Linked DNA regions of Homo sapiens. The protein of the gene in region 1 purifies or fractionates together with the protein of each later gene. This does not show direct contact. Each region holds a gene or a part of one and is shown on either strand. Other genes may lie near its edges.

Region 1 (3,753 bases):
ACAATAATAAAGAACTACATATACAATTTCTGAAAACAAAACAACAACAAAAACCCCTCTCTAGATTAAAAATCTAGTGTGGTGTGGTCCATATTCTCTGTTTTTAGCCTTTAAAAAAATGAACTTATCTATTAGCACAGCCAGTTCTTTTAAGAAGAGATCATCTGGCTCCCAAACTACATTGGTCAAATTACTGAAGGGGAGGAAGGCATAAGAGAATTGGAAAAAACAGTGATGATATGCACATAATTTCTATAGTACTAAAAGATGGCAATACACATCTATTTTGCAATCAAATTTTCCTCATAATGCTAATAAAATTTAGACAGGGTTTGTTTTGGTGATCACAGGATATATGGAGTTTTTAAAGAGTAAGGTAAGTGAAGAAAAGGGTGATTATTATTGCAAACAAAAAGGATCCCTTAAAAATACAATTAGCAAGAAGAGCTTCAGCATCATAGCTAAGACACATTGAATTCCAGCAATTTGTCAACTATGTAGCTGATATACACACTTGATTTTTGACCCTCACAACAACGTTGTGAGGTGGGTATGACTATTTATCAGAGGGTCACTTTGGGAAGGTCCCAAGCTTATTACAACCTTCATGTACAACTTTTTTTTTTTTTTTTACTAGAACATTGTAATATAAACTTATTGGTAGAACTCTGAGCCATTCAGACATATTTGTACTAAAGAAACTAAAAATGTTCCATAAGGGAAGATCATTACAATTTAGGGGAGAGTGGTGCAGAAAAACATTTTGTGGCTTTTGTTTTCTTTTTCTTTTATTGCTAAATAACATTACTTCGCTAGTGTTTGAGTCAAACACACATTAAAAAAAACTATTAGAACATTCAGACTTGATTATCCAAAGAAAAAGGAAAAAAAGGAAGCCAACCAATTAGGGTGGCTGCTTAAATTATCTTTCCCCATTCTCAAGGTTTTTTGTTTGTTTGTTTGTTGCGTTTGGGGTGGGGAGGTGAGGGGCGTTTATTTGGAGGGAAGACGGGGAAGGTCCACTCTGCCTACAACTCCGACATTTCTCCGTGTGCCTCTTTGCTAGCTGGGGACACTTCGTGGCTGATTACTATGAGGAGTGGTTCGAAGCCTAAGAAGTAGTACTCTTTTCAGCTGCCAAAGGGAGAAGGACGGGGGCGCTGTCTGGTGACTGTTCGCGTGATTCCTTCAAGGCGGCGACCACCTCCTGGGATTCGCTCTCCAGCCGCGCCGTTCGTACTCGGGTCCCGCGACCCCTCCCCGCTCCCCCCTCGCCCCAGCGATGCCAAGACGCTGAACCGCAGGGACGAGGCTCTGGGGACAAAGTCACCCCGCGGCGCCCTTTCCTGCCAAGCCGCGGGCTCCTGGCGGTCAGAAAGCGCCCCAGGCCCACCCCTGCGGGCCCGGCTTTCCCTCCTCACCTAAGGCTCCGGGGCCACGAGTCCCCCATCCTGCGCCCCTCCCGCGCCTCCCCCATCCCAAACCCCAGCAGCGTCGCTGCCTCTCCCGGAAACAAGCCCGCTGAGCAAAGGCGGAGGAAAACCTTGGGCCTTCCGCTCTGATTGGTCTCCCCCCGCCGAGCGGGGCGAGGCAGCGATTGGCTGCCGGGCGTTGTCAGTCGCCGAGGCCAGAGCCATCGCCGGGGAAGCGCAGCCGGGCTCGGGTGCTTCGGCTGCCGCCGCGGCTGCTCGGCTAGTGCAGCTGGGCGAGCTCGCGCGGGCGCCGCCGCCGCCTCTGCTGCTGCCCACCCCGCCGCGCCGCCGGCGCTGCCGGTCTTGCAGGCGGCCGCCGGGGAGGGGCGGCCGAGAGAGCGGAGCACGAGGAGGCGGGGGCGGCAGAGAAGTGATGCTGGCGCCGGGGATCGGGGCAGCGGCAGCGGAGCAGCAGCATCTTCGGGACCCTGGCTGCAGCGTCCCTGTGGCCCGCGCGCCAGCCCAGCGGCCGGAGACCACGCGCCCCGCGGGTAAGGTTCTGTCCGGCAGCGCCCGCGACGCCCCCGGGACGGCTGGCGTGGTCTTTGGGGGTTACGAGGCGCGTGGTGGCCGGGGCATCCCGACGAAGGTGTTGGGACCCGGACTGCGTGTCCCGACGCTGGGCTGTGCTACTGCCCGCGCCCGTGCGGCTCCAGCTGGTGCGTTCTCCCTTCCGCGCTCACAGACTTTGACAGCGCGGGGATGGCATTGTGTGAGTGTGGATGTGGATGCGTGTGTGCGCGCGCGCGGCTTGGGGCACTTTGCAGCGAGAACAGTGGGTCCCCTCTGCGTGGCCCGACGTCCTTCAAGGACCCAAGCTGGGCTGGAGTGAGTAGGATGCTGTTGGCTCGGCGGGAGGTAGAACGCACGGAGCGCACGGGAAAGTCCACCGTGGCTCGTAAAGAGCCGAGCAAATTGAACTTTATTGCGGTGATTAAAAGGAGCTGTGGACCTGGCGCGCCAGGGGAGAGGCGCGTTCCACGAGGCTCCCCAAAGTCCCACTTTGCCCCGGGGACTTCGGAGGGGAAGGGAAGAGAGGGAAAAGTAACTGTTGGTCCACATTGCTGAAGAAAAGGAGGAAAGAGAAGTTGGGGGTGGGGGTGGGGGTGGAGGTTACTCTTGGGGGAGTGGCGACTTTTAGGTGTCTGAAGCCCCGCGTGGGAGGCTTGCTACACTTTTCTGGAGCGCAGACTTGAGGATGGAGAGTCCCACTCTGAGGTACTGGTAGCGGCTCCTCCTGCCTGGTGGCGGCGTAGGGCGCAGCGGGACAGCTTGGTGGAGGCAGAGCGGGGCTCCGACGCCCGACGGCCCGGCGTCCAGGTGGGGCCACTGCCTCCCCAGGCCGCTTTGGCCCGCTGACCTCCCAGGTTGAGACCCGGCCTGGTGCGCCTCTGGCAGCTGCCAAATGCCTGGCGGCTCCGCTTTCCGACAAAGTTCAGGCCCGCTGGGGTCTGGTCCATCAGACCTAGGACACGTTAACCACGCAGAGTAACCAGGTTAGGGTACCCAGCTGCCTCCAGAGCGTTTTTGTTTCATATTAGATTATCTTATTTGATAAAGCTGTTGAGAGTTCCACCCGTGCTGCAAAGCCTTCCGCAGAAGGCGAATTCTTTGCGCTGCTGCAAATGGATGGTGCTACTGGGCCAGATCCGAATCTCCGTAGTTCAGTGCAGTGGGTTCTCCATCCCTGCTCAGGACGCACAAACTTACTCTTGGCGATTGTTTTCTATGTGGCTCCTTGTCTCCGTGGGAGTATCTGCTTAGGAAAGTTCTTGAAATACCTCAATACTAAGGAGCTCTCCCCACTGTCTCAGATGGGGCGAGGCTCCGGTACTTGACTGGCGTTGGGGTTGCAGCAGGGAATGGAGGTGGAACATCAGCTCCCTGCCTGCCAGCTTTGGTAAAACAAAAATTGGCTCAATACAGGGAGGCGGATCTTGAACTGGGGACAGCATTTTTCTTGTTATGTAGCTCCGTAATCTCTTTCACTAGAGGGATCTTTTGTCCCAAAACAAAACAAATCACAACACAACAAAAATACCCAAAACCAAACCGCAGAAACCACTTTGATTGGGCTCATTTCTGATTTGGTAAACCAGAGAAAATGAAAGTAAGGCACGTAATAGAAATGCTATAGAAAATCAGGAGGGAGCTGTCCAAATATGTCAGGCATTTTTCGATAGTTATTTTTCATTGTAAAGATTCTATTTTCTCCCAATTTAACAACTAAGTTATTTTAAAGCAGATGAATAACTTACGATAAACTAGTAGTGATGTTAGT
Region 2 (3,135 bases), on another chromosome or scaffold:
CCCACCTGTTAACTCCAGGTTAACAAGAGACCTGCTCTTACCTTTGTTAACTCTGTGAACAGTGTAGGTGTGAACACTGCCTCAGGCCGTGGGGGTAGATGGGTTAGCAATGCAGAGGAGCAGCTTGTCCTCATTGCTGATGGAAGATGGAAATAACAGATAGCCACAGACTTAATCACAGGCCTTCATCTCTTAGCCACAATTTCAGCACCCCTCTCTCCCCTGCCCGGAATTTTTTTCCCCTGAATTCGAGTTTGGAGACCAGGAGTGCACAGGGTTTGGTGAATGAACATCAGTAGGAGTTCCTGGGACAACCTTGTTCAGTGTTTGAAGAAGTTTTGCCTGTGGAGTGACACCCAGCTGTGACTTAAAAGATGAACTGCTGGCTGGGCGTGGTTGCTCACGTCTGTAATCCCAGCACTTTGGGAGGCCGAGAGGCAGGTGGATCACAAGGTCAGGAGTTAGAGACCAGCCTGGCCAAGATGGTGAAACCCCGTCTCTACTAAAAATACAAAAATTATCCAGGCGCGGTGGCAGGTGCCTGTAATCCCAGCTACTAGGGAGGCTGAGGCAGGAGAATTGCTTGAACCCGGGAGGCAGAGGTTGCAGTGAGCCAAGATCACACCACTGCACTCCAGCCTGGGCGACAGAGCAAGACTCCTCACCCACCCACCCCGCCCCGCCAAAAAAAAAGATGAACTGCCAAAAAGTGGGGCGAGCTTTGCAAAGGCCTTGTTACATAGGAAATGATTCTCATGTTTTTTGTTTGTTTGTTTTGAAATGGAGTTTTGCCCTTGTTGTCTGAGCTGGAGTGCAATGGCACGATCTTGGCTCACTGCAACCTCCGCCTCCCGGGTTCAAAAGATTCTCCTGCCTCAGCCTCCTGAGTAGCTGGGATTATAGGCGCCTGCCACCACACCCGGCTAATTTTTGTATTTTTAGTAGAGACGGGGTTTCACCACGTTGGCCAGCCTGGTCTCGAACTCCTGACCTCAGGTGATCCACCCACCTTAACCTCCCAAAGTGTTGGGATTACAGGCGTGAGCCACTGCGCCCAGCCCGATTATCATGTTTTCACTGGAGCAGGTCCCAAGCGGACTTCTGCTTAATGGTCAAGCCTGCATTCATCCATGTGGCAGAGGCAACTCTGTGTCTAGGGCTGACAGAAAGATGCAACAAGGGGGAGATGGCCCCTGCCCTCAGACGGCACATGGGTCAGTGAGGAGCTAGGATAAGTCTAAAAGTCTAGACTATGCCTGGTGTGGTGGCTTACACCTGTAATCCCAGAACTTTGGGAGGCCGAGGTAGGCGGATCACGAGGTCAGGAGATCAAGACCATCGTGGCTAACACGGTGAAGCCCCATCTCTACTAAAGATACAAAAAATTAGCTGGGAGTGGTGGCACGCGCCTGTAGTCCAAGCTACTTGGGAGGCTGAGGCAGGAGAATGGCTTGAACCTGGGAGGTGGAGCTTGCAGTGAGCCGAGATCGCGCCACTGTGCCAAAAAAAAAAAAAGTCTAGACTAAACTCTTCTGTGTGGGAGACAGCCCTCCACCCCAGCTCCTAGGGCTTCTATTTCATAAGCTCCAAGTTAATGATGGTTATTTCTTTCTTTCTTTTTTTTTTTTTTTGAGATGGAGTCTCACTCTGTTGCCCAGGCTGGAGTGCAATGGCATGGTCTCAGCTCACTGCAACCTCCACCTCCCAGGTTCAAGCAATTCTCCTGCCTCAGCCTCCCAAGTAGCTGGGATTACAGTCGCTTGCCACCACACCTGGCTAATTTTTGTATTTTTAGTAGAGATAGGGTTTCAGTGTTGTTGGCCCAGCTGGTCTTGAACTCCTAACCTCATGAGCCACCTGCCTTGGCCTCCCAAAGTGCTGGGATTACAGGCGTGAGCCACGGCACCTGGCCTAATGCTGGTTATTTCATTGTACACAAATATATTGAGTATTGAGTGCTTTCCCTGAATGGGGCTCTCTGCCAGGGAGGTAGGCTCTAACATGAGTGACATGCTCTGTGATTAGCAGACACGGATGGCTGATTCTTTTGCTGCCATTAAACTGAGTCTCAGAAAAGCTTGCTGGAAACATGGTTGTACTCTAGGGAAAACCAAGATCACATACTTCATTCCAGCCTCCAGGGATTGGACAGCAGGGTGGATGGGGGAGTCACAGGAGCAAGGCCTGTTCCCAGCCTTCAGGGGTTCCCCATGTATGGCTGTCAGTGCTAAGAAGGGCTCTCCTCCTCCCACCTAGGTAACGTGAAGCACCTGGTTCTCTTCCTCCATGAGGCTGTCCTGGTGCAGTATGTGGACACGCTCAAGCTCGCAGTGCCCTCTCTCATCTACACCTTGCAGAATAACCTCCAGTATGTTGCCATCTCTAACCTACCAGCTGCCACTTTCCAGGTGAGCCCCAAGCCCAGCATGGCCCCAGAGGAACTAACTGGGTTGGGGACTGGAGTATGGGAATAGCGTGGTGGGGGGGTGTTGCAGAGGACAGGGGCTATGTCACCTTCAGAATGTCCTTGGAACTCCTTCAACCTCCCTTTTCTCGTCTGTGAAAATTGGGGGTGGAAATAGTAATGCCTGTTCACTGAGATGCTAGGATACTTAAAAGAAATAATACCTGTGAAGAGCCCTTGATTGGTGACAGATAAGCTTTAGGCTATTTGTGGGCAGCTTTGTGAAATGGTTAAAGAGCCTGGATTCTGGGGCCAGGCTGTCTGGGTTCAAATCTCAGCTCTGCTACCTTCCAGCTGTGTGATTTTGGGGCACGTCACCTAACCTCTCTGTGCCTTAGTTTTCTCACCTTTAAATTGGGGCTTACAGTGGTGCTCACTTCAGAATGGTGTTGTGAGAATTAAATGAATGAATTCACGTGCAGTGCCTAGAACCACACTGATATATTGTAAGCACTATGTAAGTATTTGCTGACATTGTTGTGGCTATTGATTCATTTGTATCAAGTCCCTCATCACAAAGATACTTCCATACCTCAGCCATCTTTTATAGATGATGATGCCAGGGCTCAGACAGGGCAAGTGCTTTGTCCCCAGTCACACAGCCAGGAAATGGGATTGGGATGTGGACTTCTTGGCACAGCCATCCTTTTGTGCACTTGCTGGGAGAGACT

What was found. Proteins that work in one complex are often made in the same cells at the same time.
Region 2: the proteins of B3GALT1 (region 1) and SLC35A2 purify together in Homo sapiens (affinity purification with western blotting, with the first as the bait; one study listed by BioGRID). This does not show direct contact.

What each region holds. Positions count from the first base shown.
Region 1 is NC_000002.12:167,291,372-167,295,124, forward strand, and holds the start of B3GALT1 (beta-1,3-galactosyltransferase 1), read left to right. Parts: upstream 1-1,629; 5' UTR 1,630-1,963; intron 1,964-3,753. UniProt on the Homo sapiens protein: Beta-1,3-galactosyltransferase that transfers galactose from UDP-alpha-D-galactose to substrates with a terminal beta-N-acetylglucosamine (beta-GlcNAc) residue. Involved in the biosynthesis of the carbohydrate moieties of glycolipids and glycoproteins.
Region 2 is NC_000023.11:48,905,665-48,908,799, reverse strand, and holds part of SLC35A2 (UDP-galactose translocator), read left to right. Parts: intron 1-2,256; coding exon 2,257-2,408; intron 2,409-3,135. UniProt on the Homo sapiens protein: Transports uridine diphosphate galactose (UDP-galactose) from the cytosol into the Golgi apparatus, functioning as an antiporter that exchanges UDP-galactose for UMP.